Linked DNA regions of Homo sapiens: regions 1, 2, 3 and 4 are each reported to be linked to region 5. The links are microRNA targets in miRTarBase. Many come from high-throughput screens and were not tested one by one. Region 5 holds a microRNA gene; each other region holds the end of a gene's coding sequence.
Evidence for each region. The annotated mature microRNA hsa-miR-548b-5p reads AAAAGUAAUUGUGGUUUUGGCC and lies in region 5 at 4,229-4,250, shown strand. An mRNA with a match to its seed (bases 2 to 7 or 8) in the 3' UTR can be bound and repressed. Matches are read on the target gene's strand: a 7mer-m8 pairs with bases 2 to 8, a 7mer-A1 pairs with bases 2 to 7 and ends in A, and an 8mer does both.

Region 1 (6,382 bases), not on the chromosome of region 5:
AAAAAAAAAAAGAATAGTTGCAGGGGTCTTGCAGGAGCTAAGAAATACCTGCCTCACAGGGGTAATTACGGAAGCATTTCTCCTGTGGCTTACCTGGCAACCATTGCCCTAGAGTTGACAACTGCCAGAGTGCATGAATTGGCAGGGAAATGAAGCTGTTCTTTAGCTACCAACTCTTTCACTAACTGCTTCTATTCTGAAAGTGTTTAGCAAGGCTTTTGTGCCTGTATTCATCCAGCTCCTGGCTTTGATGCTTTCTAGAATCCACACTACCCCTCCTCTCTGATTATCTAGATGTTAAATCATCCTTAGGAGCCACTTCAAACCCATTTCACACACAACACCTTTACTTACTCCTCTAATCTGTATTGCTCTCTTCTCCAGACCCCTGTAGCACTTAATGGTTTATGTTAGTTTTTCTGAAAGTATGTTCTATTGAAGCTCTGAGGAGTGTTAATGTTGTCATATGCAAAAAAGGCTCTGTGGCCAAGTAAGTTTGGGAAACCTAGAAGCAAGGCTAGGAAGATGGATTTATTCAAAGCCCTCTGGGAAGGCTTGTTTTGCTGTTAGGAAGGTGCATCTCCTAAGGGTAGAATAAAGTATTCTTGCAGTCTTTCTATTTTAGTGTTTCCCAAAGTATATTTAAGGCCAAGGTAGGTCTATACCACTCATGTTTATGTTTAGTCTTATTATGGTGGTGCTTATCTGGAAGACAGGGTAGTGATGCTGTCGTGTTGTGTACTTGTTCTTTCTCCCGCTGCTGCATATAATTTTTCAAGGGCTTTTTTATTTTTTTCATGACTCCTTTAGTGCTCAGCACATAATAGCAATCAAGCTGTTATTGGATATCTGAACAATGTTGAAGCAAAAGTAAACTTGGCATTGTTATTTTGTTATCTGTGAGTTGTTTGACCTGATATAAATTCTAGGTATCAGTTTAGGTCAGTCAGGAGCGCTTTTCTTTCCCTGTGCATTTCTCTGTGCTCATATGATACAGCCCTGATGTTAGCTTTTCAAAAAGGACTTTGTTATCTCTGTGTGTTTCCACTAGGTGATACTATCAACCAAAGCACCCTGCCCTCACAGCAGAACCGTTTCCCAGACTACCTTGAAGCCATTCCTGGGACAAATGTGGACCTTGGAACACTGGAAGGAGATGGAATGAACATAGAAGGAGAGGAGCTGATGCCAAGTCTGCAGGAAGCTTTGAGTTCTGACATCCTTAATGACATGGAGTCTGTTTTGGCTGCCACCAAGCTAGATAAAGAAAGCTTTCTTACATGGTTATAGAGCCCTCAGGCAGACTGAATTCTAAATCTGTGAAGGATCTAAGGAGACACATGCACCGGAAATTTCCATAAGCCAGTTGCAGTTTTCAGGCTAATACAGAAAAAGATGAACAAACGTCCAGCAAGATACTTTAATCCTCTATTTTGCTCTTCCTTGTCCATTGCTGCTGTTAATGTATTGCTGACCTCTTTCACAGTTGGCTCTAAAGAATCAAAAGAAAAAAACTTTTTATTTCTTTTGCTATTAAAACTACTGTTCATTTTGGGGGCTGGGGGAAGTGAGCCTGTTTGGATGATGGATGCCATTCCTTTTGCCCAGTTAAATGTTCACCAATCATTTTAACTAAATACTCAGACTTAGAAGTCAGATGCTTCATGTCACAGCATTTAGTTTGTTCAACAGTTGTTTCTTCAGCTTCCTTTGTCCAGTGGAAAAACATGATTTACTGGTCTGACAAGCCAAAAATGTTATATCTGATATTAAATACTTAATGCTGATTTGAAGAGATAGCTGAAACCAAGGCTGAAGACTGTTTTACTTTCAGTATTTTCTTTTCCTCCTAGTGCTATCATTAGTCACATAATGACCTTGATTTTATTTTAGGAGCTTATAAGGCATGAGACAATTTCCATATAAATATATTAATTATTGCCACATACTCTAATATAGATTTTGGTGGATAATTTTGTGGGTGTGCATTTTGTTCTGTTTTGTTGGGTTTTTTGTTTTTTTTGTTTTTGGCAGGGTCGGTGGGGGGGTTGGTTGGTTGGTTGGTTTTGTCGGAACCTAGGCAAATGACCATATTAGTGAATCTGTTAATAGTTGTAGCTTGGGATGGTTATTGTAGTTGTTTTGGTAAAATCTTCATTTCCTGGTTTTTTTTACCACCTTATTTAAATCTCGATTATCTGCTCTCTCTTTTATATACATACACACACCCAAACATAACATTTATAATAGTGTGGTAGTGGAATGTATCCTTTTTTAGGTTTCCCTGCTTTCCAGTTAATTTTTAAAATGGTAGCGCTTTGTATGCATTTAGAATACATGACTAGTAGTTTATATTTCACTGGTAGTTTAAATCTGGTTGGGGCAGTCTGCAGATGTTTGAAGTAGTTTAGTGTTCTAGAAAGAGCTATTACTGTGGATAGTGCCTAGGGGAGTGCTCCACGCCCTCTGGGCATACGGTAGATATTATCTGATGAATTGGAAAGGAGCAAACCAGAAATGGCTTTATTTTCTCCCTTGGACTAATTTTTAAGTCTCGATTGGAATTCAGTGAGTAGGTTCATAATGTGCATGACAGAAATAAGCTTTATAGTGGTTTACCTTCATTTAGCTTTGGAAGTTTTCTTTGCCTTAGTTTTGGAAGTAAATTCTAGTTTGTAGTTCTCATTTGTAATGAACACATTAACGACTAGATTAAAATATTGCCTTCAAGATTGTTCTTACTTACAAGACTTGCTCCTACTTCTATGCTGAAAATTGACCCTGGATAGAATACTATAAGGTTTTGAGTTAGCTGGAAAAGTGATCAGATTAATAAATGTATATTGGTAGTTGAATTTAGCAAAGAAATAGAGATAATCATGATTATACCTTTATTTTTACAGGAAGAGATGATGTAACTAGAGTATGTGTCTACAGGAGTAATAATGGTTTCCAAAGAGTATTTTTTAAAGGAACAAAACGAGCATGAATTAACTCTTCAATATAAGCTATGAAGTAATAGTTGGTTGTGAATTAAAGTGGCACCAGCTAGCACCTCTGTGTTTTAAGGGTCTTTCAATGTTTCTAGAATAAGCCCTTATTTTCAAGGGTTCATAACAGGCATAAAATCTCTTCTCCTGGCAAAAGCTGCTATGAAAAGCCTCAGCTTGGGAAGATAGATTTTTTTCCCCCCAATTACAAAATCTAAGTATTTTGGCCCTTCAATTTGGAGGAGGGCAAAAGTTGGAAGTAAGAAGTTTTATTTTAAGTACTTTCAGTGCTCAAAAAAATGCAATCACTGTGTTGTATATAATAGTTCATAGGTTGATCACTCATAATAATTGACTCTAAGGCTTTTATTAAGAAAACAGCAGAAAGATTAAATCTTGAATTAAGTCTGGGGGGAAATGGCCACTGCAGATGGAGTTTTAGAGTAGTAATGAAATTCTACCTAGAATGCAAAATTGGGTATATGAATTACATAGCATGTTGTTGGGATTTTTTTTAATGTGCAGAAGATCAAAGCTACTTGGAAGGAGTGCCTATAATTTGCCAGTAGCCACAGATTAAGATTATATCTTATATATCAGCAGATTAGCTTTAGCTTAGGGGGAGGGTGGGAAAGTTTGGGGGGGGGGTTGTGAAGATTTAGGGGGACCTTGATAGAGAACTTTATAAACTTCTTTCTCTTTAATAAAGACTTGTCTTACACCGTGCTGCCATTAAAGGCAGCTGTTCTAGAGTTTCAGTCACCTAAGTACACCCACAAAACAATATGAATATGGAGATCTTCCTTTACCCCTCAACTTTAATTTGCCCAGTTATACCTCAGTGTTGTAGCAGTACTGTGATACCTGGCACAGTGCTTTGATCTTACGATGCCCTCTGTACTGACCTGAAGGAGACCTAAGAGTCCTTTCCCTTTTTGAGTTTGAATCATAGCCTTGATGTGGTCTCTTGTTTTATGTCCTTGTTCCTAATGTAAAAGTGCTTAACTGCTTCTTGGTTGTATTGGGTAGCATTGGGATAAGATTTTAACTGGGTATTCTTGAATTGCTTTTACAATAAACCAATTTTATAATCTTTAAATTTATCAACTTTTTACATTTGTGTTATTTTCAGTCAGGGCTTCTTAGATCTACTTATGGTTGATGGAGCACATTGATTTGGAGTTTCAGATCTTCCAAAGCACTATTTGTTGTAATAACTTTTCTAAATGTAGTGCCTTTAAAGGAAAAATGAACACAGGGAAGTGACTTTGCTACAAATAATGTTGCTGTGTTAAGTATTCATATTAAATACATGCCTTCTATATGGAACATGGCAGAAAGACTGAAAAATAACAGTAATTAATTGTGTAATTCAGAATTCATACCAATCAGTGTTGAAACTCAAACATTGCAAAAGTGGGTGGCAATATTCAGTGCTTAACACTTTTCTAGCGTTGGTACATCTGAGAAATGAGTGCTCAGGTGGATTTTATCCTCGCAAGCATGTTGTTATAAGAATTGTGGGTGTGCCTATCATAACAATTGTTTTCTGTATCTTGAAAAAGTATTCTCCACATTTTAAATGTTTTATATTAGAGAATTCTTTAATGCACACTTGTCAAATATATATATATAGTACCAATGTTACCTTTTTATTTTTTGTTTTAGATGTAAGAGCATGCTCATATGTTAGGTACTTACATAAATTGTTACATTATTTTTTCTTATGTAATACCTTTTTGTTTGTTTATGTGGTTCAAATATATTCTTTCCTTAAACTCTTCTTTGTTGTTTTTAACAATTGATATTTGAAACTTTTTTTTTTTTTGGCTTCTTACTGGTCTTCCAATAGAACAAGAACTGGCAATAAAAGGTGATTACAGTAGTAACTGGGAAGACAAGTTAAACTTAAGTTTCGTTGTGCTTTAAGTTAGGCTTGACATTTGGAACTTTTGAAGTATGGATATATAATTCTTTTAACTTTGTGTTCTTACTCTTCACATACACCATCCTCATCCGTGGTAGTGTCTAAGCAGAACTGCGTCTGCTTGATTCTTAAATGACTTCACTACATGTGACGGCACAGAGGACACTGAGAACATAAGAACATGGCACTGTCTTTCAGAATGGCCTTTGGTTTTACTTCTTTAATATATTCTCTCAGGCCAGGCGTGGTGGCTCACGCCTGTAATCCCAGCACTTTGGGAAGCCAAGGCAGGCGGATTACCTGAGGTTGGGAGTTCAAGACCAGCCTGACCAACATGGAGAAACCCCGTCTCTACTAAAAATACAAAATTAGCTGGGCGTGGTGTCGCATGCCTGTAATCCCAGCTACTCGGGAGGCTGAGAATATATATATATTCTGTTCTATTTTGGAGGTCATGAGAGAATATTATATATTAGTAAAAAGCATTACTTACTGGCTTATAAATAAAAACATTCACAAATTGAAGTGGTAGGTCCTGACCTTTGAATAAGAAGTAGATTTGAGTATCTTTAAAGATGGCTGGACGTGGTGGCTCACGCCTGTAATTTCAGCATTGTGGGCGGAGGCTGAGGCGGACAGATCACCCGAGGTCAGGAGTTCGACAGCAGCCTAGTCAACATGGTGAAACCCCATCTGTACTAAAAATACAAAAATTAGCTGGGCATGGTGGTGCATGCTTGCAATCCCAGCTACTTGAGAGGCTGAGGTGGGAGGATCACTTGAACCCGTAAGGCAGAGGCTGCGGTAAGCCAAGACCACGCCACTACACTCCAGCCTGCGTGACAGAGCGAGACTCCATCTCAGAAAAAAAAAAAAAAAAGATTGATTTCTGTGTTTGCGTGTATAATAGCTTCAATTATTGACACATCTATTTTGGTGAGGCAAATCTGAAAATGCTTCATATTTTACAATATATAATTTCTTTATGTTAGAACACTAATTTCGTGTAGCTTGAAATTGATTATTTCCTTTTTGTAGTTCAGATATAGTGGTGGTACATCTTGGCTCAAAACCATACCTTGTGTCTGTAGACACTGTGCTTGTTGCTCCACGGTGGTACACTTTTTGTCAGATGGTGTGAAGCCCAGTAATGTGAATCTGCCTTCATTCTGGATCTCTGAACCAGAATTGTACCATCTTTAGTTAACTCTGAGTTTAACAGAATACTCAGAAAAATGTATTTAGATTTGGGAATAGCCTCTAACGAGAACAAGGAGGAACATTCCAAATACTTGAGAAGTATAGTAGTCATACTTAAAACATGATTTACATAATGTTTTTCTTAGACCCCAAATTAAAGTTCAACAGCTCAGTAAGTGAATTGCTCAGCTGCAATAAGCAAGAAAACAGTCTTCCAGAGGGAGGGGGAGGGGGAGAGAGATCAGTAACTACTAGTGAAAGGAAA
Region 2 (6,382 bases), not on the chromosome of region 5:
GATAATATTGCTTGGCTATGTTCAATTCTCCAGACAACCCAGTTCTTCAGATTGAAAGAGACCTGAAGTAACAATGAAATTACCATAGTGTTCTTTCTCCTGCCATATCAGGCACAAACTTTCCTTATGCTGAAACATGGAATACACTGAATAAAAAGTCCTTTGGTTAATTTAGGGTAGAATGTATTATAAAAACCAGAATAGCTGAAATATGGCTTACAGATTTCAGAGATATTTGTATAGAACTTGAAGCAAAGTAATTGGTCACATTTTAGTTATTTGAAATTGGTGGCATTACATCCGGGTGAGGTGAGAAGGGGGTCCAAAACCTAGTTTCATACTAATTTTAGTCATTCAAAGTTACTCAAAGACAGGGAAAAGAAACAAAAAACCTACTCAGTCTCTTTCCATTCTTATTAGTCACCTGAAGCATTCTGACCTTTGATGTTACTAACAATTCTCCTCTACAGCAGTATGGGATAATTCAGGCTAAACTGCTTACAAACACTAACTGTTAAACTGTCAAGTTGGCATTAAAATTGACACCTTTGCTGGCTTAGAAACTGTCTAAATGAAACCAGTACTGTTTAAGAAAGCAATTGGACTATTCTACAAGACAGCTTTCTTGTCTCAAATGCCTGAATACCTTAAAGTACTGGCAAATGACTATATTATCATTACCTTTAGTATGAAGAAAATGTAAGTCTATAAAAGACTATAAAATAATTACATTTATTAAATTAGAGAGTTTAAAACAAGAATGTGGTTAACATTCTTAGGCAATTTAGATCTAGAATCCTTTAAAAAAGCTTACTATGAAATTAATGGTGAAACTGCCTTTTGTTGAATACAGTCAAAGAAGACTAGTGTTATAAATATGACTTTGTGAATACATGAGTAATACTTTCCAAACAGATGTTTCTAAAACAGACTGTTTCTTATCAGCTATAAAACAATCTGGTTCCTCTGTTTCCCATTTACAAATTACAGGATTTCTGGAATTCTTAGTAAAAACACACAGGCAGAGACAGGGCACGAAACACCGCTGCTCACAGAGTAAAGAGTTATAATCCCTGCAGGTCTCTTGATCCAATGGGTTCTGGTCTCTCTGTCACTGACTTTTTCTTCTGAATAGCCCACATTATTATTTTATTTTGTTTTGTTTTTTTGAGATGGAGTCTCGCTCTGTCACCCAGACTGAAGTGTAGTGGCAGTATCTCGGCTCACTGCAACCTCCGCCTCCTGGGTTCAAGCGATTCTTCTGCCTCAGCCTCCCGAGTAGCTGGGACTACAGGCATGGGCGTGCACCACCACGCCCGGCTAATTTTTGTATTTTTAGTAGAGACGGAGTTTCACCACATTGGCCAGGCTGGCCTCGAACTCCTGACCTCGTGATCTGCCTGCCTCAGCCTCCTAAAGTGCTGGGATTATAGGCATAGTCCGCATTATTTAACTGACTGGTTCTAAGGATAAGTTCTGATTTCAAAGGATACAAATAAATAGAGCTAGAAGTTCTATTTTTGCCCTTGCAATTCTGGTCAGAAAACTATGGAGAGGATAGCCACATAAAGAATTCTTGCAGCACAGCCACGAAAGGTTTCCCCCAAATTATTTTGTGATAACAGCAAACCTGCCTCCTTCAAAACCTCTTACTCTCTACCACTCTTCAATTACCCTTCAATAACACTACCCTACCTGGTCTTTAAAAAAAAAAAAGGAAAAGAAAAAAAAAGGCAACACTGCTGCCAGGAACACAGAAAATGCATTGAAGACTTGTAACATAACCTCCAGTTTGCATCCCCAAACCAAAAACCTTTTGGTTCCTTCCTTACTAAAGTCTCCATGATGATGTAAGCCTTCACAAGTCTGCAACTACAGAACCAAATACAAGGTCAAAAAATATGTAGACCAAAGCCATGTAGCTTCTCTGCTTAGCCACATTCACAGATAAAATGTAAACATAAATACTATCTTCACTATGGTTTAGATTTTAACCAGGAAAAAAAATGAAGACAAAATCTGGAAATTTCTGGACAAAACAAAAAGCAACTAAAATACAGGTTTCATGTTTAAGTAAAACTGAAAATAAATTTGTCTCAATGTTTTCCAAGAAAGAGATGATTAATTTATGTAAACACTGCCTTATAATAGTTAAAACAATAAGTTATACCTAACTTACATTTTTCTCAAAACATATATGAGCAAGTGCAAGGCTGAAAAGTTATTTTACAATCCCCATTGCAGTCTGTTGTTAGGTCTCTCAATGTCAATAGCTCTGCAAAGTTAGTTACATTTATTTTTCTATTTGGTCTTAGAATAGAATTTATATGAAGGAAAGAAGACTGAGGTTAATAGCTATTTAAGTTTTTGTTATTGATTGATTGATTGATTGAGGCAGGGTCTCACTCTGTCCCCAAGGCTGGAGTGCAGTGGCATGATTACAGCTCACTGTAGCCTCAACCTCCTTGGGCTCAAGTGATCCTTCTGCCTCAGCCTCCCATGTAGCTGGGACCACAGGCATGCATCACCACGCCCAGCTAATTTTCTAAACAACTTTTTGTGGGGATGAGGTCTCACTTTGTTGCCCAGGCTGGTCTCTTTTACCTGAGCTCAAGTGATCCTCCTGCCTTAGCCTCCCAAAGTGCTGCGATTACAGGCATTAGACACTGCACCCACTCTAATTTGTTTTGTTTTGTTTTGTTTCGTTTTGAGATGGAGTCTCACTCTGTCACCTAGGCTGGAGTGCAGTGGAGTGATCTCAGCTCAATGCAAACTCCACCTCCTGGGTTCAAGTGTTTCTTGTTCCTCAGTCTCCCAAGTAGCTGGGATTACAAGTGCGTGCCACCATGCCCAGCTAATTTTTGTAGTTTTAGTAGAGATGAGGTTTCACCATATTGGCCAGGCTAATCTCGAACTCCTGACCTCAAGCCATCCGCCTGCCTTGGCCTCCCAAAGTGCTGGGATTACAGGCGTGAGCCATTGCACCCAGCCATGTTTTTAAGAGAATGGGTCTTGCTACCTTGCCCGGGCTGGAATGCAGTGGTTATTCATAGGCGTTATAACACACTCTAGTTTCTAACTCCTGGCCTCAAGCAATCCTCCTGCCTCAGCCTCCTCAGAACCTGGGACTATAGCCTTGCACCACTGCACTCGGCTTAACATTTTAGCATTAATGTTGCCATACAGTTTTTTGAACCCTTTCCCAAAAGCCAACATCACTGCCTCCCTAGCTAAATTCAGTCTGTTCTGTCACGTAGAAAAATAACAGTAACATATCTTTTTACCTGAAGGGTCAAACCACTCTAACTGGCATAGGAAACATCCTTTATTTTTCATGATTATGCAACTTCTTTACATGAGATGTTGGCATTTTGTTCCTAGCATGTAACAGAATCAGTGATTTAAGATATCAGATTCTGAGTTGTGAGATTTAAAAGCATAAAAGTTGAATTGCCTTGCAGCATTTCTCAAGTGAGAAATACAAAAATGATGTTCACAGCAGACCCAAATTGGGGTCATTCAGCACTAGCTGAGACTTGTTTGCATAATTTCCTTTCCTACCCAATTCATTCAGGCTCCTATGTAGCTTATACAGGGGTGGGAATATGACTCAAAGTGCAAAAATAAAATATTTCACCCAGATAAGGAAGGAGCAAGCTTCTGCTATGTGGCCTAATTGCAGGCCTCAGAATGCCAGCACCTTTTCTAAGTTTTTGTTTTAAAATGGAATGTAAAAACTACATAATTAATATTCCAAGCAGCTTAAGCTCATTAGTTGGGAGTTTAAATTCCAATTCCATAACCATCCTACTGTCATAACTACTGTAAAAAAATCATTAAAAATAAAGTAACAAATGTTATCATAGATGTGAAATTACTTAAAGTACTAAATTTCTAGTGTTGTAAATAGCAGCTAAGTTATATCACTTCCTGACTGCCAAATTAAGACTAAATAGAAAGAATGTATATACACCATTATATTTAAAAGTAAAAAACAACGAAACTTTTTCATATCCAAGTATGTCTGAGACTGTTTACTTCCAACAGCCAAGAATGATAAATTTCAAAAACCAAAAAGTTATATTTTGCGTGCTGTAAGTTTCTTTTCAGGAGAAAACAATTCTTTGCATGCATACCTCCCTACTTAACGGCATTAAGAACTTTATCTAACATCTGGTAAAACACTCCTATTTGGCTCATTTAATAACACCATTAAAAAAGCATAAAATTGAACTGTCATCTAACAACTATAGCACAAAGAAGTTATTCTGGGTACCTATACCACTAACATTAAGCCCATTTATTTTTATGGATGCAGCCATTTTTCCCTCATGAATACTCACTGAGGGTCACACTGGCACTGCATCTTTTGTTGCATCTTTGGTGAAATATGCCAGCCCTACATTTGCATTAATGAGGAGACCAATGGCATCCTAGCCAGTACTCTGTCACGTCATCTATGGCCTCTTTCATTCTCTTCTTATTTCAGGCATCCTGGTATGCTCAGTATATTTAAAGATGGTTCAGAAGGCAAAAACTCTTTGTCAGTAAAACAGATCATGTCCCAGGGTTGCATTTTTTAAAATGAAACAAAGATTAGTCCAAAGAACAAGTACTGTCACTTGTTAGGGTTTCTTCTTCTAAAGGTAATAAGGAGCTTCAAAACATATTATTTCTTGACTAGAGCCCTACTGGAAATCAATGAAAATTCCTCAACCAGCAAACTGCTCAAGTTGACTTGTTTAAAGTTCAATAAGCAAATACTCAACAGGTAAGGGTACAGCCTGACTTCAATCACAACATTAAGTCTTCCTAAAGAGAAGGGGCAGAAAACATCTACTTAAGCTTTCTGTTCAAATAGCTACATAAGGACTCTTGATTGTTCTTTCTTGCTTTTTATAATCATAACTTTGCTCAGAACAGAAAACTTTACTTTGTCAACACATAAGCCAGGCATCTAAGAACAACCTAGGGGGAGAACGCAAAGTTACTCATTTTCAACAACTATTATATATTTAATCACAAATTCATTAGAAAGATAGTATTCATCCAATTAGTCTTTTCATTATTGCTGGTTTTGAAAATGGCCAACAATATTCATTAGGTACTGTGCCATTAACATTGCATTCAAAAAAAGAGAACATGGGAAACCAAATCCTTGCTCTCCTACTCTGCTGATATGCTCTGGTATTGGCCAGAGTATGGTAGTACAAAAAGAGTCTTGTTGTTATATAAAAAGCAATAAACACATCAATAGAATAATGTTCATGGGCAGCCAAGATGAAGAAGATTCCAAAGAGGTTGAGAACCCAGGATAAAGTGTGCAAGAAATTCCAGCTTCTTGGTGTATCTAGGAAAAGGACAGAAAGATCATTTTAAAGCTACATTCCTTCCAATGCTTCTCAGTCACGTTTCTCAGGTCAGGCTGTTTTGCCATTCTTCACAGGATCTGACACCCTTCCCACAGCCTTCACTGCAGCTAGTTACCTAATACGCATAGAAGCACTAAAAAGATACTTACATTCGGTGACAAAGAAATTCAGCATAGTTAGGACGACTGTGTGGCCACTAAACATGTAATCTCCACATGTGTGAACGCCAGTCAGGGTCATACCAAAGCCACTCCAAATGGCAAAGGCTCGATGTAATTTCTCCCATACACTGCCATATATCTATGAAGAAAAGTTATGAATTAGTGCTTCAAATGCTTAGGGAGGTGGGAACTTCCCAACATCCATTCCTATTGAAATTCAAATGCTGAATAACTTAGAAATAAGATCTAAGCCAAAGCATCTAGGCCTTCAGTCTAATGAATTCCAGCCAGACTTCAAGAATGGGTGGGCAAAGCTTGGCTGTACTCAGAAATATTTTGGTAATTAAATGAAATCAGACTGGGCACAGTGGCTCATGCCTGTAATCCCAGCACTTTGGGAGGCTGAGGTGGGTGGATCACCTGATGTCAGGAGTTCAACATCAGCCTGGCCAACATGGCGAAACCCCAACTCTACTAAAAATACAAAAATTAGCCAGGCATGGTGGTGCACACCTATAATCCCAGCTACTAGGGAGGCTAAGGCAGGAGAATCACTTGAACCTGGGAGGCGGAGGTTGCAGGGAGCCGAGATCGCGCCACTGTACTCCAGCCTGGGCGACACAGTAAGACTCTGTCTCAAAAAAATTGATTAATTAATTAAAAATAAATAAATAAATAAATAAATAAATGAAATCACTGTAACATGAACTCCTTTACTAGGAGTTCCTTTATAATAAAAAGTTCTCTATAATACAAAAACATCTCCAAGTTTTTAATCCAATATCACAGTAGTAGTTGCTTGGCTATTCTTGCCAATAAGACATAGGCTATGACAGACGGAGATCAATG
Region 3 (6,382 bases), not on the chromosome of region 5:
CTGCATAACTTAATATAATCTTGAGGCTGAGCACCTTTTTTTTTTGTTTTTGTTTAATCACATGGATTATGGAAAGAAGTGGGGCCCAGATGAGGAGGAGTCTAGGTGTAACAAATTGGAATAAAATATTTCCATTTTCTTTCAACTGGATTTGGCTAATCACTTTTGTATCAGGTTAAATTGTAAGAAACCCCCAGGGCAGGTACTTAATAACTCAGTAGTTCTTGGCTGAGGACCCTTACTCCCAATTCTTCAAACCCACCCACCACCCTGCACACGATTGGAGTTTGTGAGCTCTGCTTGATGGATAGCTACTCTGGTAGCCTGCTTCTGAGGGTAGACAGTTTTTAGTTGTGTGTTTTCATTAGTTCTAGATTTTTCCTTTTAGTCACTATCTTCCCAATAAACAGTCATATTTATGTGACTGTCATGTCATATGAACCTAGCAGCCCTTTGAAACTCTTCTTCTATGTCCTAATACTTCATAATTTTATATTAATGAATCTCAAGTATTTAAAGTAAAACTGATGTTAAAGTTTGTGATAATAGCAACCAGAGTTGCTATTAATTGTGTATCTTTATTTTATATGTTAAACTTTTGCAGCTGGAATAACTGATTTCCTGGAGTATTCTGGCTATATAATTCATACTAGGTTGTAATCAATAATGTTCTTTATACCACCACCCCACTATCCCAAACTCAATTCCACCCCTACCCTACCCACCCTCCTACCTCCCTACCCTTCCAACAATCCCACCCTCCCCACAGCCCCACCCTACTCTAGCCTCTCCCACTCTCCCTACTCTCTCAGCCTTCCCCACCCTACCCCACCCCATTCCCTTGATGCTGGTAGATGCTGAAATGATCAGGACACAGTTTGCACTTAACCACTAAATCTTTATTGAATTTTTATTGTAACAGCAATGCAATATTAGCAAATAGAGAGAAATATAGAGTGAAGAGAATACAGCAATAAAGTTAGAAGGAGGGGTAGGGGCAATGGGGTTCAGTGGTAGGAGGAGGGCTACTGACAGGGGTAAAAGCAAGGGTTTTTATTTATCACTTTTATAACTTCCATGAAAATTTACCATCCATCATTGACAAGTTCATTCTAGCAGTAATTTATCAGAGGTCACTCATCCTCTATTAAATTATTAATCTAATCACCTTTGAACTTTCTCCCACTGGGGTTTTTATCCATGTCCAATTCGCTCTAAATAAGTTGGTCTCCCTGCAGTTCCCTCCGAGTTTATTTGAAATCTTTAAGGATAGCAATTATAGGGTAAAGGGTTACAAGTAAGTACGCATGTCCACTTATAGCGATATCTAATACATAATATTATTCTAACATTCTAAATAACCCCACCCACTTAAAATTACTTAATAGTCCCTCCCACCCTAAAATGCTTATGATTATATATCCCCTATTACTTAAACTTGATTACACAAAGAAATAAAAGCAATGCAATTTTCCACAGACCAATTCAATACCATTCTACAATCTAAAACAACAAAGAACTTTCAGTCTCATCAGATGTGCATTCTCTCTTTAGATGAAAATGTAGCATGGTTCCCGCAGGGCTCTCCATTTCTGCCCAGGTCTTTCCAGCAGGTTGTTCTCTGTTGTCAATCTTGGAACTGTCTGTATCTGATGTGAGATGTCTGTGGTGGATGACAACTGGATCAATTCAGAAGTCCAAGAGGTACCTACAAACTTAAACAGAATTCCAGACTGCACCATATAGATGTGGCCCTCTTATTTTGTGCACCTGCAAGTTCACTGTATTACTTCACGATTTGATCAGACTAATTCTCCTTTTTTCCACTAAGACAAATACCTCACTGTCCAAACTAAATTGACCCTTCATAAATGTATGTAAACTTTCTGTGTTTCAATATCCTAGCATGATAAATTTAGCTAGTTCTCTCTAGGCTTGCCTATCAATGGGAGCTCTTAGATCTTCTTCCTTCTTGATTTAATTAACAATGTAAATTTGGGCTAAAAGTCAATTAATTAATTTTGCCAGTTTGAAAAACTCGACTACTGATTTGCTTACTAATTCATCTATCTCCTTTATGTTTTTTATTTTGCTCCCTTTCTAACTTCTTTAGATATCAAATTCCATTGATTTTTTTCCTTTCTTATGAATAAAGCCATTTTTGTTGGAAAATGCCAAAAAAAATTTAAAGGATCCAATTAACATAAATTTGATTAACAACAAAATAAATCAATTGAGTGAAAGGAAACTTAACCAAACTTCAAAACTATAGAATAATAAATTTAGAATTACTTATCCTTAACATCTACATTTATAGATAGCATATATAGCAATAGAGCATAGTACACACTGCCAAAAAGTTAATCACAAGCTTTAGTAAACAGCCAAATGTGGATCAGGGACTTTCTGAGTTGTTAACCCACAGCAGCATATTTTCCCTAATCGTTCTTGTCGTTGGTGAACTTCTCCAGACTTTTGCTTGCAGTGGTGGCAAATGTCCGTGTGCACATGCCAGGGCTACAGACAACGGCCCATTTCTAGGCACCCTGCAGCTTGAAGATCAATTGACAACTGTAAATTTGACAAAAAAACAACTTGAATTCAAATGTATGGAGGATGAATTGATACTTGAGGTAAACAGAAGTGACTCTTCAAAATAGTTCAGAAGCACAAATGCACCATTTTAAAAGTAATTACTCTAAAACACATGAGTGATTGACAAGCTTTCTGATTCCATTGAAGGAAAAAAAAAGTTGTTTTGGATTAAATAGCCAATTAGGTTTCTCTTTTCAAATTTTATATCCTTTTATATGATTTTTAAAGGCCCAATTGATAGAATTGAAATTATATATGATGTTAAAATTGAAGATGAACAGGATGAATTATTATACAAATGCTCCAGTTCTGAGGAGCCTCTCATTCACAGCATTGTAAGAAGTTCACAGTAAAGGAATATTTTACACTATGTTACTTATCATTTTTACTTAGTTTAACAATAAGAACTGGATAGTGCTTTGTAATTCAATGGAAGTTTTTGAAAGCCTAGTCACCACTTCAAAACACACTAAAAATTATACTAAAAATTTTAAGTGTTTAAACATGCAAGAATAAGAGCAGATGATAATGAACATGTGAAAGATGATGCTGATGAAAAGTGAAACTTCACCGTTAGACTCCTCTTCATGTCAGGCAATTTGAGATATACACCATGTTGTTTTCTACTGCTCAAACTGTGCTTTGGCAATTAAAGCCTGCCTCTTACATCTCTGTGTGTGGCAGCAAAATGGAGTCTCAGCAACCAGGCAGGAAAATGACACAAATCCTGCAGCAGGGTCAATGGCAGTAGCAAAGAATTAAACAGAAAAAGAGAGGTTAGATAAAACAGTTCAAGGTAGTAGCAAGGGACCAGGCTAAAGGAAGTCAGGCAGTCCCAGGTTAGCACAAAGCTTCCAGGGGACATCAGAGGTGTCACTGGGCTGAAGACAACTCTTGTGTTGTCCGTTGCTTTGAGTCCTTTGAGTTGCTTTCTGAGGCTTTTCATCCATTGGCAGCTTCACATCAGCTCCATCCTCTAGAGGGACCTTTTTCATTACGTGGATTCTGATCCTTTTGAAGTGGTTACCATCAAGTAATGTGGAGCTCACTAAGGAAGTCCACATCCTCAAGACAGTGTCCACAGCCCTAATTCCTCTTCTTCAAAGATGTCCCCCTTCCAGGCATAGGAGTGTGAATCTGGGTGCTAAATCATTTCTCCTCTCTCCACACATCCTAATGCTACAGTCTAATGAGGGGACTGAAGATGAAATGCCCAGATGCATATGGAGGCAGACACATGGATAGATTCTTCCAAAACGTCAGCTGGTGCTTTTCCAGCCAATTAAGAACACTCATGAAAATTCTTTCTGAAGTACCAGGACAAATCTCTTAAGAGTTGGGTATGGGATTTTGGAGTCCTTTTGATGTGCTACTCTTTAGCCCTCAAAGGTGATTGAGAGGTGGTCACATTTCATGAACATCTAACAACGCTGGAGCCACCAGTAATCTCTGGTTACCAGGTTTAATGCTTTGTGGAAGCCATCATGGCATGATGATGGTAAGGTGTTGTGTCAAAGCCGGAGTCATTGGGTACATGTGATTTGCACCATGATGTGAAGACATAGTCTTAACATGCAAGAGTCCATCTGAGAGAGCACTTTCTTTTCAGGCCTGAGATGTTTCATGTCACAAGGGTTTTTCCTGCTCCTGGGAGAACCAGTCGAGTTGCTGCTCCTTGAGAATTAACAGAACCATGGAAATGGAGTTTGAAGACGGTGAAGTTTCTAAGGGTGCAGCGAGAGGATCACGGAAGCCTTTCCACACTGCACCGATAATTTTGGCTTCCTTAATAAGGCCTCAGTCCTCCAGTGATTTAAAAAGAGGGTACCGAAACCGCAAGAAAAGTCATGTCCTCCTCCTCCTCGTCTCCCCCTCCATAAAGAAATCAGCATTTCCTGCGTTTGTATCAGCTTCTCTGTAAATGTTAAACAGCAAATTTGGCAGCCTATAATTTAGATGGTGATGGAGGTTTTGGCAGGTAAAACCCAGACTTCCAGGACTGGCTGGAAAGTAAACTTATTAATTATTTTAGTTAGATTGGCAGTCAAGGTGGAAAAATGAGAGATCATTTATTGGCAAATACTCTGTTGCTCTCAGAAAATGTTGAAGGTCTTTTGGTGCTTTAGGATGTGTGCCAGTCCAGAGTGGCCCTAACCTTCCATAGCCGTTTCAGAGAGGATGTGCCTCAGGTGGCCTGAAGATACAGTAGCCTAAAATTTAGCACACAGTCACTGATTGAGAAGCTGAACAGGAATAAATTTTGAGGGCAGAGATCCTGAAGGACATGACAGGTATTTACAGGGTACTGTAAGATGGAGGCGGCGGCGGTGGTGGTGGTGGAGGCGGCGGCTGTGGCGGCGGGTACTGTGGTACCGGAGGCTGGCGGTACCAGTGTGGATTCCAAGTGATCATCACAGGTACATATAGTGATCTTCCTTGTCCGTCTCGTCCCACTGGGTACCAGGCGAATCCTACTGGGTAGGTCGGGTACGCGGCATATGTGGGGTATGTTTGGTATCCAGGTATTTGAGGTACGAATTCAGTGTACGTTGCCAGGTGTGCTTGGTCTTCTAAATTTGGAATAGATAGGCGAGGATACTGATTCTGGATAGTAAAATTGTTTGGAGCTCGGCAATCATAAGAAACTTGCAGTTTCCACCCCCTCTTCACCTGGAGAACTTGGGCTCCATTAGGTGCAATCGTTGGAGTAATTAGCCCATCTTTTACATTTCTTGCCACAAAATCTCGAAGAGCTGCCATTTCAGGTTCGGACAGTGAATACACATGTCCACTGGGAATACTGTGTGCTCCAGGTATCATTTCTATGTGAGGGTCAACCAGGCGGTGATCTGGGTAGACGTGCTCATCTACTGGAGTGTACACATTCTGGACATAGTAATACCTCACTGGTTGGTAAACTCTGTATCCATCTACTGGATAATAGAGTGGCGGTTGTGGTGCTGGTGGTGGGAGCGATGGTGGTATTGGAGAATACATCCGGCAGTGGTAGCGGCAGTATTCAGAATCAAAGACGATAGATCGAGTGCTCCATGTGATATTGGGATCATGTGTGCTCAGCCAGCGAACCCCTAGGACGACAGGGAAGAATGGAGACTGAGTCACATCAAATGACAGCACCTCTCGGTGATCTCCCAGGTCAACTATCAGGTCGTGAGTTTCGTGGACAACTGGGCCCGATGCTATGGGGCGCCCATCAATTGCTTCCACAAGTATTGGCCAGTCCTTGATTCTTAGAGGAATTCCATTTTGAGCAACATATTCGTGATCAATGAAGTTGCCAGAAGCACCAGAATCGATCATGGCTCGGACGAACAGGGTGTGTCTGCCCGGAAGATGAATCTGGAGCATCACTTGCAAGTGTGGAGATGAGGCATCATCTTGTGGGGACCTTATTATTTCTGGCCCGGTCGCTGAAGGTCCCTCTACAGCGGGGCCGGGGAGTTTCCCGCCGGCGAAGACTTTGAGGCCTTGGCAGGACAATTGTCAGCGTAGTGACCTCCTGTTCCACAGTAGAGGCACAGGTTCAGCTTTCTGCGTCTTTCTTTTTCTTCCTGCGTCAGGCGCATGCGGGCACCTCCCACCGGCTCGGTTGGATCTACCTGGTGGTGGCTTGCAATGTGAGGCAACACCAGCGCCCGGGGTGGCGAGCGTGGCTTGCGAGCTGCAGCAGCCCTGGCCAGCCTTCTCTCAATGTGAATGCACTGCCCAATCAGAGCAGACAGCGACTTGGCGACCTCGAGGTGGGAGAGCTCCTCCTGAATGTGGT
Region 4 (6,382 bases), not on the chromosome of region 5:
GAGGCCGAGGCAGGCAGATCGCCTGAGGTCAGGAGTTCAAGACCAGCCTAGGCAACATGGCAAAACCCTGTCTCTACTAAAAATACAAAATTAGCCAGGCATGGTGGTGTGTGCCTGTAATCCCAGTTACTCGGGAGGCTGAGGTAAGAGAATCGCTTGAACCTAGGAGGCAGAGGTTGCAGTGAGTCGAGATCACGCCACAACACTCCAGCCTGGGTGACAGAGTGGGGCTCCGTCTAAAAAAAAAAAAAAAAACCACAAAAGAAATTATTTTCAAGTGGAAACAAAACAACAGAAATTAAACTTGCAAGGACTAAGAAAGGAAGGGTGATCAATTTAAAGCTACAGGTTCTACAACAGAATAACCTCAATGTATGCTGAGCTAAGTATGATGAACAGGGGAGCTGGCTATTTTTCTAGATCTTTAAACAACTCTGCGTCAGATATAAAGTTTGCTAAAATATCTTAAGTCTGCCATGGTTTGAAACATATACCTGTCAAATTTGCAGAAACATTTTTAATTTATTTTATTTATTTATTTATTTTTGTGAAACAGGGTCTCACTCCATTGTGCAGGCTGGAGTGCAGTGGCCCGATCCCAGCTCACGGCAACCTCCACCTCCCAAGTCCAAGCGATTCTCCCACCTCAGCCTCCTGAGCAGCCAGGACCACAGGCATGCCCTGCCATTCTGGGCTAATTTTTGTATTTTGTAATTTTGTAGTACAGATGGGTGTCTCACCATGCCGGCCAGGCTGGTTTTGAATTCCCGACCTCAAGCGATCCACCCACCCCAGCCTCCCAAAGTGCTGGGACCACAGGCGTGAGCCACTGCATCTGGCCCAAATTTGCAGAAATATTTTTAAAATGTGCAGTCCATTTCAGAGAGCCATTAGCATTTTCATTTTCATTATGTAGTTTTTATTTTAGACGAACATTATTATAAAAAAAAAGTTCACCTGGAATAAAATCCATTTAAAAAAAACATAGCATCAGTATCAGTACACAGTTAATGAATTGGCTTAAACAAGATTAACCACATGACAGGTCCACTTATCTGCAGGAGCTTTTCACATTAAGCCATTGGAGCAAAAATAAAATATGTTTAAACATGTACAGTAGGATAGTTATATGGAAAAACTAGAGAGTTTCCATTAGGGGCATGATTTTCATCAAACAGTTTATGGTATTTTGCATGAAAGGAACTGCAGTGTCAGCTGCAAACAAAATAAAAGCCATCTGTAAGGCCATAAAATTGAACTATAATAACTAAATTCACATTTTAAAAAAAGGTAAAGTGAAATAAGTTCTATTAGTTTCTTGGCACAAGAAATGCAATTGCATATGGCACACGCATTTCAAGAAATGAAGTAAAATCTGAAAATATCCCTAGAATAATTGTTTGCTAATTTTTATTTCTGTACATTTCAGTCATTTAGATTTTTTTCAGAGTGAACATGACAGCCATTAATTTTATTAGTCTAAAAAAATGACTTATTCTACTCTAAAATTGTGCTAGAATTTGAAATTATTTTAGCATATCCTGTCCGTCTAGGTCCCTCTATATCAAGGGATTTCATTTTTAGACATTCCTTTCCACCCACCCCTGTGCCCCCCTTGGATGTAACAAGGAAAAAGGAATGTCTCTTCTGTTTAAAAAAAAAAAATTCTGAGAAACCTGATTGCAGAAATGAGTGCTTAAAATTTATAATAATTAACCAACATAATGAAATGTGGTTTTTAAAGATTGAGAACTAAATTTGTAAAGGAATCTAAGTCATGAACTTGAAAAGAATGTCTGCTTAAATGTGTCACTTACTGATCACAGGAAAAACTTTATAAGCCTTAATATAGACTCTGAGCATTCAGAACCTGTAAAATGGAGTTATAATCTCTTACTAGAAACTTCTGCAAAAACGCACCTATATTGCACAGCTAAATTTATTAATGGAGACAGGGAGATAATACTTTTTTTATGCTACTGGATATGACATGTATGCTCTATCCTAAACTAATATTTCCTACCTTTCCCAATGATGTCTTCAGTTCAAAACAAAACAAAGAGTCTAAATTTTGTTAGATGCTTAAAGGCTGGCTCACTGTTTTTCTACCAGGTATTAGAATACTAGTTAGCTAAATGAGGTATAATTAAAAAATAGACCTTCAAAGTAAAGAGTATAGTCTTCTGAAAATTTATAACAAAGACTGCACAAAATGTTTCTGTAAATAGTAAGAAACCCTGCAGCACCTACTAACTGATGCACAGGTAGATTATTGTATCATAATCTGTCTGAAGTAAAATATAGCTAAAATAAGTTCCCAGCGAAACGTTTTACAATCAACTGATTTACATGCTACTTAGTTACAGCACATTTTCACTGTCTGATACCCTCAGACTCTATTTGAAAAGGTCTAGTCCAATCACTGTCAAAAATTAACACACTGATTAATAAAGTGCAGCCACTGAACCACTAATACTGCTGCAAAAATCTTCATGTACCTTATCCATAAGACCACAAAAATGTTCACAAAAAAACTAGATTTCTTCAGTTTCAGCGGGGAACAGACAATTATCTGTCATTAAATTCATCTACAAATAGAAAAAATAATGCACTGTATGTACATTATTAAGCAAAGTGGAATATTTATTGGGTCATTTTATCATGCAGAAAGTGAATTTCCTAAGGTCTTAGCTCAATGTATATACAATCTAGCAAAGCTAAATGTAAGAAAATAGCAAGGACAATTTATTTCTATATAACAGAGCATATACTCCCAATTTGCTGCTACTTCAAAGAGCACTTTTAGACTCATCTAACTTTTACAGGCTCTTTCAAGTGAAGTTCATGGAGACTAGTTATTAATCCATATAAGACAAAAGAAGAAAGAAGAAATATAACCAAAGCAAAGCATTCTGTTAAAAAAAAAAGTAATAAAAGCTAACCACAGAATATGTCAGTTTTGGTTTGCAGACAACCCCTGAGATTATATAAACCAAAGCGTTAAGACACCAAATAGTCAGAGGTAAATTACTAAGAGAATTACATTCATACATGGTGTCATAGCACTTATCTTTTAGAAGGTACTTTGTTACCATCCAGAAAGCGTTAACTGCTTGGATTTTTTCAGGAAATAGTGAATATTAAGATGTTTCTAAAAAATTATCTTTTCCTTTTGAAAATGTATCTAATTTGAAGATAGTAGAATTACAATAAACTTTCAATCACGGAACTACTAATTATACTAGAACAGCAACGAATGACTTTTAAGCCTATAGGTAATTACCAAAAAAAAAAAAATTAAGGAGGCTGAAATTTGTCAACAATAAGTTTAGTATATCTATTAAAAATAGCTTGGGCATATTTGCAGCTGCTAAATTGTTCCTATATTTTCAAATAAGTACAAAAGATTGACTGGTCCAAGCATTCTAATGACATATCTTAATTTGAAGAGAATTCTCTGTGGTAACAAGCAATCCCTTTCCACTGCCATCTCCTGTTCTTATCTATCCAGCATGATAGTAGCCTTTGTGAAGCAAAACAGGCATACCAGGAAGAATAATTATTAACAGAATTCATTTCCCTCATCCCCTCTGTTTTATCCCCCCTGTGTTATGACACTGAAGGCTAGAGCAACAACGACATAGTGATCTGAATTTGGCACACAAGTTAACACTAAATACCTTGTGATGGTTTCATCTACAAAAGTATACCAGTACCAGTGTTTGTTGAGAAAGGCAACTAAGCTTTTGGTTGGCTTTAGCCCAAATGACTGGACTAAGTTCTGTAACAATGAACCAAAACAGATGGAACTGGGTTCTACACAATCAACAACAGCTGTTTGAAAACTGAAACCTTGGTCCTGTTTTCTCTAATGAAAAGGCAAGACTTTTCCTAGAGGCTGCACTAGGTCTAAGTACTTTTATTTCTAAAAACATCTGCCAAATAAAACCAACCAAAACTCATTATTTTCACCATTACCAAGAGCTAGCTCTATTAAATTTATATCAACAAGTTAATCTGTCTCTATATAGGGAAGGTTTCCGCAAACTAAAATCTAAACCTAACTTTTGTAGACAGGGATTATGGTAGGAATTTGGTATTACAACTAAACCAGCCAGCTAAGGAGTGAACCTAAGAAAAAATATATTACATATCCTTATTGACAGAATCACAGTTAGATGCTGCACTAAAACCCTAAATGGTATATCTCTCAGCCCACGTAAAATTTCAGCTCAAGAAGTTCACAAATAGAAACAGATAATAATGTTCAAATATTACTTAAGAGTGATTACACTTAAGTCAAACATGGGAAAGAATAGCAAATACAAACCCCAGGGAAAAATGAGATTATGGTGATTTCCAAATGCAGTTTCTATAGATTAGGCAGAGGTAATCATTTTAAAGTGATTCATTCAGCTACCCAGACTCTGGAAAACAGGTCGGGGATGAGGCAAAGCTCTTAATCTGAAGAAATAAAGAAATTGTGGCCTTTGATGACAAGATGGGCATTTCAGTAAATTTTTTTAATGACTTTAATGATTCTTATTTAAGAAAAAGCCCTTAAATAAATGCTACCAAGGCAGTAATATTTGACCATATGAACCAGACCAAATACCCTTTAATTTTAGTATATTAACCTCTGCTGTAAATGCTCTTTTAACATTGCCACATGTACAAATTTGTCTAGAACTTCACGACACAAAAGTGTGCAAATATGAGTCTAAGATTGTGCTGAAATAGGGAAAGGCTAACACTGATGTGCAAAGTAAAAAAGAAAGATAACCGCTTCTGCAACAGGTAATAAAACAAGGAAAAAACGAGTTAGGTCCTGCATGTGTCTCCACTTCATTGCTTCCATGTTTGAAAAAGGGAGTCTGTTCTTTTGCTAGGCCATGAGGCTGGAATCCACTTGGCATACTGTGTTGAGAGGTCTAAGTTCAGTGGTGCTCTCAGCAGCAGCCGGGAGGTGTGATTCTGAGGCTGGGTGACCTGTGCTTTCAGAGAAGCAGGAAAGGGCCCTCTAGGTGTGCTGCAGTCTCTCAGAAAGAGTTCATCAAAGTAGCGAGCAACGAAAGAAACTGGTCTTCTTTGATCGGTTTTCTGTTATTTTCACTGGTCCACCTGCTCCTGCTGAATTGCTGTCATTCTAAAAAATAGAAGATGAAGTTACCAAGGAAATAAAAGTTTCATGGTTTGACCTCAGTTACCTAAAAAATAAAAATAACTAACCATACCATGTGAAATGTGTATTCTAGTGAAATGTGTATTCACTAGAGTATTTTATTAGAACGGGAACTAGTTAAGCACCAATGTTGTCTTTTTCTTTGGAAATGGTGAATTGAAAAGAGGAAAATGCCCTTACGATAGCAGCTTTTATATCAATAATGTATTCAATAGGAAGCTTCTATTTCTAGTTCCAATGGAGTGTAAAGTTTCAAAGGTAATGATGGAAACAATGTTAAGATACTGGCATAGACAGTTCTGTTAGAGGTAAGAAGAGTTAGTAGCATAAGGTACGCAATTATAGTCAGGACTCAGGATAAAACAAACTTTCAAGGTTGTCTTAATGATTTCAAATTTAAGCAAACTTTAGCAACTTCAAAATCGTAGTTATGCAGATATAAATACCTGTCACATGAAAACTGAATAATTTTATGGCAAAAATCGAATTTGTGCCATTATTATTTTCATTATTCTCATCAAAATTCAATTAAAGATCACTTAAAGAGCCAGAAGAAAGGACTGAAACAGTGGCAGCTCAGAAATAAGAATCCTAAACAAACAGAACTAAGAATCAGAGTTCAACCAAATGAGTATCTGAGTCAGGAAAAAAATGAGTTTAATTTGAGTATCTTATAATTAGACCTATCCTTTTCATCAAATGCCAAACAGACAGCATAATGGAAATAAAAATTATAAGTGATACAAACCATTTTTCTGTTGAGTTTTGTCATTATATCTCGTGCAAGTGTAAAAAATGCCTATAGGTAAAACAAAACATTTTCATTATTATATATTCACTATATATATGTATATATATATATATACACATATATATATTCCCCCCGCCTCAGAGATGGGGTCTTGCTATGTTGCCCTGGCTGAATTGGAACTCCTGGGCTCAGGCAATCCTCCCACCTCAGTCTCCTAAGTAGCTGGGACTACAGGTGTGAGCCACCATGCCTGACTTATTTTAAAACAGAAATACAGAATTTTTCATTATTTCAATATAAATATACCACTTTAAAGCTTTACATTAAGAAAGTAATAATTGTAATCATAGTATGCATGTGTTTACTCTTTTGAGATTGTATCATAAACATTTTCCAATGTTATCAAACTATCATTCATTCATCAAATATTTTCTTCATGTGATATAATA
Region 5 (6,382 bases):
TGTTTATCACTTAACTAGTATAGACATAAGTAATATATGGTACAGTGTAAGTTCCCAAACAGCAGGAAGTAGTTTATTTTGTGTTTTCTGTGCTTAGCATCAAGTCCTCTTATTTAATACCCAGCTTATGGCTCTTCTACTAAAACTGTCCTGACCAGCTACCCTTGTTGGGCTTTCCTTGCTGTGCGTTAGCATTGATTGTTGGTACCTCTTACTTGATACTTAATAATGCAAACTTGCAAATACTGTTTATTGTGTTTATAAATATACTTTGTTTTCATAATTTGACTGTAAGGTTCTCAGCTCTAGGGACTGTATCTTTTATTACATGTAACCTTAATATGAATGGTTTGCACATAGTACCAAAGCTTAATAAGTATTTACTGAAGAAGATGGTGGTCATAATGATACAGCAAGTAATTTTGTTATACAGCAGAGAAAGACAGTACTTTTTAGGAATTGTATCTGCTACTCTTCTGGGTTAATGATAGATCATTTCAGCTGAGTTAAATTATTCCTAAATATGTAAATGTTTATTGACTGCCCTTTAAACTGCTTCAAAAAGCTATTTTATTTCTTAATGTATTTTTGATGTAAAAAATACAAATATAATGTTCTTTGTCTACATTATAAGTATTTGACACTTCAGAATGTAGGTAATTAATATACTAGTTTCTTAGCAAATATAAAAAAGCCTTGTGATCAGTCATTTTATACTAACTCTGCTTTTACTATATCCAAAACCAGAATGTGTTTATATAACACCAAAACCAGTGAATTTTTCAAATAATACTATTTTCTGTACATGAAATAAATGATTTTTCACTAATTGGTTTGTTTGAATTATCTAGATACTCTTTCATAATAATTCTATATTGCTTATGACTTGAGTCTTTGAACAAGAATGGTAAGTGGCCTCATAAAACATAGCAATTGGCTGTGTTTCACCTTAGCACTAGTACATGCCAAATGCAGCATCTCTTTTTCTTTGTTACATTGTAGCTTTGCCATGCTGTTATGCAGTGGCTTGGATGTAATCTTTTAGTCATAGTGGAGTGGTTTGGATTAATTTGTTGCATTTTACTAATGGACACAAAAGCATAGTATCCTGTTAATTAACTGGTCACAAACTTATAAAGGGACTTCCTTTAGAGTTAAAGATTTAGAGTTAAAGGTTAAAGGTTTAGGTTGGGTGCCCTGGCTCATGCCTACAGTCCCAGCACTTTGGGAGGCCAAGGCAGGCAGATCACTTGAGGCCATGAGTTCGAGACCAGCCTGGCCAACATGGTGAAATCCCGTCTTTACAAAAAATACAAAAAATTAGCTGGTGTGGTGGTGGGTGCTTGTAATCCCAGCTACTTGGGAGGCTGAGGCACAAGAATTGCTTGAACCCAGGAGGCGGAGGTTGCAGTTGAGATCATGCCACTGCACTCCAGCCTGAGTGACAGAGCAAGACTCTATCTCAAAAAAAAAAAAAAAAAAAAAAAGATTAAAGGTTTAGACTTTAGACTGTGACCAGGCTGACCCTCTCATTTTATAAGTATAGAAGGTGTGAGGGCTCGGTGCCATTTGAAGATTACTCAACCTGGACTCACATTCAGCTCTCTAGATTGGTCTAGGTGGGGGTGGCCACACTAACAGGCCTCTTTTCCCTGTGTCTACCTTCTTTCTAATATTACTTATTCAATAAGAGACCACAGAGTTATTGTTTTTCCATGTTGGAACCATGTTTTACTTACCATCTGAATCAAATTTTTGATAAGGGTGAAACCAACCTGTGTCTCCTCTGTATACTTACTGTGGAACTTTCTGGGTTTATAGGTTGTATATTTTGTATACTATGACTTGGTCACTTTGTAACAGAGGTTTATTGTGTGTGCTGTCAGCTAAATGTCATAATATTTTCATGTTTTTATTAACAGGTTTAGTCATTCCAAACTGAAACGTATTTAAAATAACATTAACTTAGAGACTGCCATACTTGGTGTGAAAATTACTACTGTGGTTATTTTAAATGTCTTTCTTTTGACTGCTTTCATTCTTGATTAGATTGTTGCTTAGACCCCATTCCTAAACACAGTAAATTGCAAGTTTTCCAGTTTTTATTGATTCACTATCTGTTTAGTTTATGAAAATCCTTTGCTAGCCTCTAATCACCAGTCTTAAAAAGTGTTATGAAAGATAAAGATTCAGCAGGAATATGTGACTGGAGTAATTTCTTCATTTTAATTAATAAGTTCCCTATACTTTAACTTTTAAAATTGTGATATTTTTGAAAATTTTGTATCTCTTAAATGTGAGATGGGAATGAAGAATAACCTGGGTCTATAAAGCTAATTAGTTTGTGGAAGAAAATAGGAGGTAATGGGGGCCAGGGGAGTATTGATAAAATACTGTTATTTTGCCCTTTCAATTGATCTTGTGAGTTTTTTTTTTTAAAGAAAATCTTCATAAGCATTCAAATAAATTTGAATATTATGCCATGAAATGGAAAGGATGTGAATGACGGGAGTTCGTAACGCCATTCTTTTTATTCACCACAGGAAGTTTCTATCCTGCAGCCCACTTCAGAATGTAAAGGACATTAAGTAAATGTCAGAATTGGTGCCCCATGTCCCTTTTTTGGAGATAGACACCTATGGGAGACAATCACTAACTGATTTCAGGATTAGATAAATAGATAAATAAAAACAGCAACATTGAGATCCCATCTCTACTTTTTAAAAAATAAAAATAAAGAAAAACAATGTTATAAATGGTAGTTTGATATGGGGGAATCATATCAAACTATTAGGTTTATATTTTATATGTCAAGTGTGGTCTAAACCATAGGGGGCTTTTTAGATTGACCTAGAGAGTTAATGGTCCTTCAAAATATTGGAAAATATTCTTTGGCTGCCAATCAATTAATATATAAAAATGAATTTTTGAAACAATGATATTTGCAAGTTGGAGATTGCCAGTTGTATTTTGGTATGCTTAACCTTTAAGACCAAGCAAAAATTTTAGAAAATCTCTGATTCTTAACTTTTAACTAAATTACATCAGTGAACAACTGTCATTTGTAACCTTATTTCACCAAGGATTACATCTTTCTTTTCTACCAAAACTTCAACGAGAATGTATAAAAAGTAGTGAAGTTGAATATATGAATTTTTTATCCTGTATCTTACACTATTATCTTGAGATGCAAATGGAAGCTGAAACTATCAAAGGATCTATAGTACATGGAAAAACAAGACTTAGTGATTAACAATCATATGTGGGATTTGGATATTTTAGACTTGGCTACCATGTGCTACCTCATTTAATTGTAAAGGAGATAGTACTTTGATTTTTTTAATTGCTAATTCTGTATTTCCTTATTTACATGTACCATCTCTATACCAAAGTTTGAGGAAGTTGGAAAGTAAAACATTTCATCTATAAAGTGCATTACTAATATTTAAATTATCAATAAAATTGATAATTTTAGTAAAATAACAGGGTAAATTCCTATTTATGCGAAATTATTAGAGAATGAATTATTTTAGTTAACTAGAAGTTTCCATAGGGGTTAATAAGTTTTCACTTTCTCATATAGTATACTTACATTTACATCATACCATTCATATATCACACTGGAGTTCTTCATCAACTCCAGATCATTGTTAGGATCATCAGTGCATATATAGGAAATTGGACCAAACTTATGCTAGTCCTATTAGGCCAAATCCATGAATGCTGATATTTAATTTCTGAATAAATTGTTACTTGCCCTTTTACTTGTCATGTCTTTTTTACTTATAAAATGAAGTGTCGCATTTGGATATTTACAAATTCTAGACATTGGCCTTGGTGGTTGAGCAGATTTTGTTTATTCTGGCGAATGTGTGTCTATGTGTTCACAGGTATTTGCATTTTTCATCCTGTAGCTCCTTAAGCACAGTTTTAAAGATTCTCATTTCTTTCAGAAAACATTTTATGACCAAAATACTAAATAGTATTCTTTGCCTACCTTTAGATGTTTCGCCTAGTGAATTTTGGGAGGAAGGTGTGTGTGTGTGTGTGTTTAATGGTCTACTCAGAGTAATAAAATATACTTAGATATGACCGAAGTAGAATATATAGGTCTATGTGTTTGGTAAACTTGTCGAATGCCTACTTTATGAAAGACATTGTGCTTGGTACTATTAATTATTTAATACTATTTATTATTCCATTTCAGACTATATATTTAGGTTGGCGCAAAAGTAATTGTGGTTTTGGCCTTTATTTTCAATGGCAAGAACCTCAGTTGCTTTTGTGCCAACCTAATACTTCACATATATTTTCCAACAGACTTGAGAAAATGTAACTGGAATATATTAATCATATATTTTAATTACAACATATTTATCAGTACATTAATTCTGACAAATTTTAGATGTGTAATCATGGGCAAATTTTTCTATTTGGTTTCGTTCTTTTTGGGTAGAACTTATGTACGTGCTTTTCTTGGATAAAGAAACTATACTGATACCTTCTAAATTCTCTAATAAGGTTTTGATGACTCAGTTGACATATTCTGGTTACAAATCTCTAATATATTTGGCTGGGGGGTAGAGCGGGTAAAAGGAAATTTCAGTCTTGGAAACCCCGGAGTTAATGTGTTTGTGTTAGGTTTAGGTTTCTCATGGGCAGCCGGAGAGCCACATTGTTCCCAGAGCCAAACGGCCCAGTGAGGCAGCAGTGCCCATCATATGGGTCAGAGGTGTGGTTCAGTAAGTTAGGCATTCCCTTATTTGAAGTTCACCTTCACCACTTCCTAGTGTTTGACTTTTAATACATATTTTAACCACTCAGGGCTGTCTTGTCCTCATCTGTAAAATGAGAATGACAAAGCGTACTTCATAGAATTATTATAAAGATTAAAGGAGATAATTGATGCAGGAGAGAGAAGTCAGTTTGTACCCACTATCCCCTCCCCACTTGGTTAAGCCTCTGCTGACATACTCTTTAACAATAAAGTAGGTTTTTAGGCCAGGCGCAGTGGCTCACACCTGTAATCCCAGCACTTTGGGAGGCCGAGGTGGGTGGATCACACTTGAAGTCAGGAGTTCGAGACCAGCCTGGCCAACATGGTGAAACCCTGTCTCTACTAAAAATACAAAAATTAGCCGAGTGTGGTGGTGCATGCCTGTAATCCCAGCTACTCGGGAGGCTGAGGCAGGAGAATTGCTTGAACCCAGGAGGCGGAGGTTGTGGTGAGCTGAGATTGCGCCACTGCACTCCAGCCTGGGTGCACAGTGAAACTCCATCTCAAAAAAAAAAAAAAAAAACCCACACACAAAAAAACAATAAAGTAGGTTTTTATATGTCTTTATTTTGTTTGTTTGTTTATTTATTTATTTTTTAGAGATAGAGTCTGGCTATGTTGCCCAGGCTGGAGTGCAGGGGTGCCATCATAGCTTGCTGCAACCTTACACTCCTGGGGTCAAGTGATCCTTCCACCTCAGTTTTCTGAGTAGCTGGGATTATAGGTGCAAGCCACTGTGCCCAGCTATATTTTCTTTTCTGATGGATATATAGTCTACATTGTTGGGGACCATAGCTGTCAAGTAAAGGTTGAGCAGCAAATAAAATATAGTCAGTTCTCATTATTCGTGGTCGTTGTATTGCATGGTCTAGGGAGAATACAGAGCTAGGTTCCTGACACCCTCTGGTCACAACATTTTCACCAACTGATCAATGTATAACCTTGTTTTATGTGTGTTTCTGTTTAAAACACCTTTTAAAATATATATTGATCCATTAACAGTGAAGCCACAGCCAAATATCACTATAACTCATGCCTGAACAAAGGTTATTTAGCACACCTTGAGTGTTAGATTTTGGGGTTACATGTAAATTTTAGCAAGTAAGATAATTTACAAATAGGGAGTCCATGAGTAAAGAAGATCAACTGTATCTAAAAATGGAAGCACAACTTTGCATCTGCTGTTTTCTTAGCTCCTGCTGTTTATCAGCTATTGTTAGGGGCCTAAGTGACTATGACTCTTATTACCACCCTAAACACCCTCACATGAGTGTGACTTTGACTCTCATTATCTCAGTAAACACCCTCAGATGAAAGGGGTGGAAAGGATAATGGAGGCTGAAATACTAATCTTTTGTGTGACTTGCCAGTCACCTACAGGCCACCCTACAATCATAAGCATGGGATAAATTCTTTCCTTGTATGTTAATTGTAATCTTCAAGATCTAAACTTGAATCTATCACATTGCCCTACATCAGAAAAAGGAAAAAAAATATGTAAATGATTCCAGGGCATGGAGCAAAACCTTTAAAAAATAATTTATTTTAGTTTAAATAAAATCTTTCATAGTCATCATTTGCCTAAAACATGTTTGCAGTTACTTC

Region 1: miRTarBase lists YAP1 as a target of hsa-miR-548b-5p. Seed matches in the 3' UTR shown: 7mer-A1 at 1,417-1,423 and 7mer-m8 at 1,825-1,831.
Region 2: the mRNA of SAMD8 is a reported target of hsa-miR-548b-5p. Seed matches in the 3' UTR shown: 7mer-m8 at 3,985-3,991, 7mer-A1 at 3,880-3,886, 8mer at 3,844-3,851, 7mer-A1 at 649-655 and 7mer-m8 at 254-260.
Region 3: the mRNA of PEG10 is a reported target of hsa-miR-548b-5p. Seed matches in the 3' UTR shown: 7mer-m8 at 4,603-4,609 and 7mer-m8 at 2,687-2,693.
Region 4: miRTarBase lists RAB8B as a target of hsa-miR-548b-5p. Seed matches in the 3' UTR shown: 7mer-m8 at 4,763-4,769, 7mer-m8 at 2,925-2,931 and 7mer-m8 at 2,164-2,170.

What each region holds. Positions count from the first base shown.
Region 1 is chr11:102,228,651-102,235,032 of GRCh38, forward strand. It overlaps YAP1 (Yes1 associated transcriptional regulator), which reads left to right. Exons shown (of 9, transcript NM_001130145.3): 9 at 1,052-4,774. The coding sequence ends at 1,290. Among named protein-coding and RNA genes, the nearest start is that of BIRC3, 86 kb to the right of the region's middle.
Region 2 is chr10:75,175,356-75,181,737 of GRCh38, reverse strand. It overlaps SAMD8 (sterile alpha motif domain containing 8), which reads right to left. Exons shown (of 6, transcript NM_001174156.2): 5 at 5,522-5,672; 6 at 1-5,350. The coding sequence ends at 5,046. Among named protein-coding and RNA genes, the nearest start is that of VDAC2, 32 kb to the left of the region's middle.
Region 3 is chr7:94,664,191-94,670,572 of GRCh38, reverse strand. PEG10 (paternally expressed 10) reads right to left here. Exons shown (of 2, transcript NM_001172437.2): 2 at 878-6,382. The coding sequence ends at 4,891. Among named protein-coding and RNA genes, the nearest start is that of PEG10, 11 kb to the right of the region's middle. RefSeq lists an enhancer at 3,346-3,465.
Region 4 is chr15:63,262,291-63,268,672 of GRCh38, reverse strand. RAB8B (RAB8B, member RAS oncogene family) reads right to left here. Exons shown (of 8, transcript NM_016530.3): 7 at 5,931-5,981; 8 at 897-5,146. The coding sequence ends at 5,054. Among named protein-coding and RNA genes, the nearest start is that of APH1B, 12 kb to the left of the region's middle.
Region 5 is chr6:119,066,966-119,073,347 of GRCh38, reverse strand. It overlaps MIR548B (microRNA 548b), which reads left to right and starts at 4,205; the gene lies at 4,205-4,301. All of the region lies in intron 1 of FAM184A (family with sequence similarity 184 member A), which reads left to right.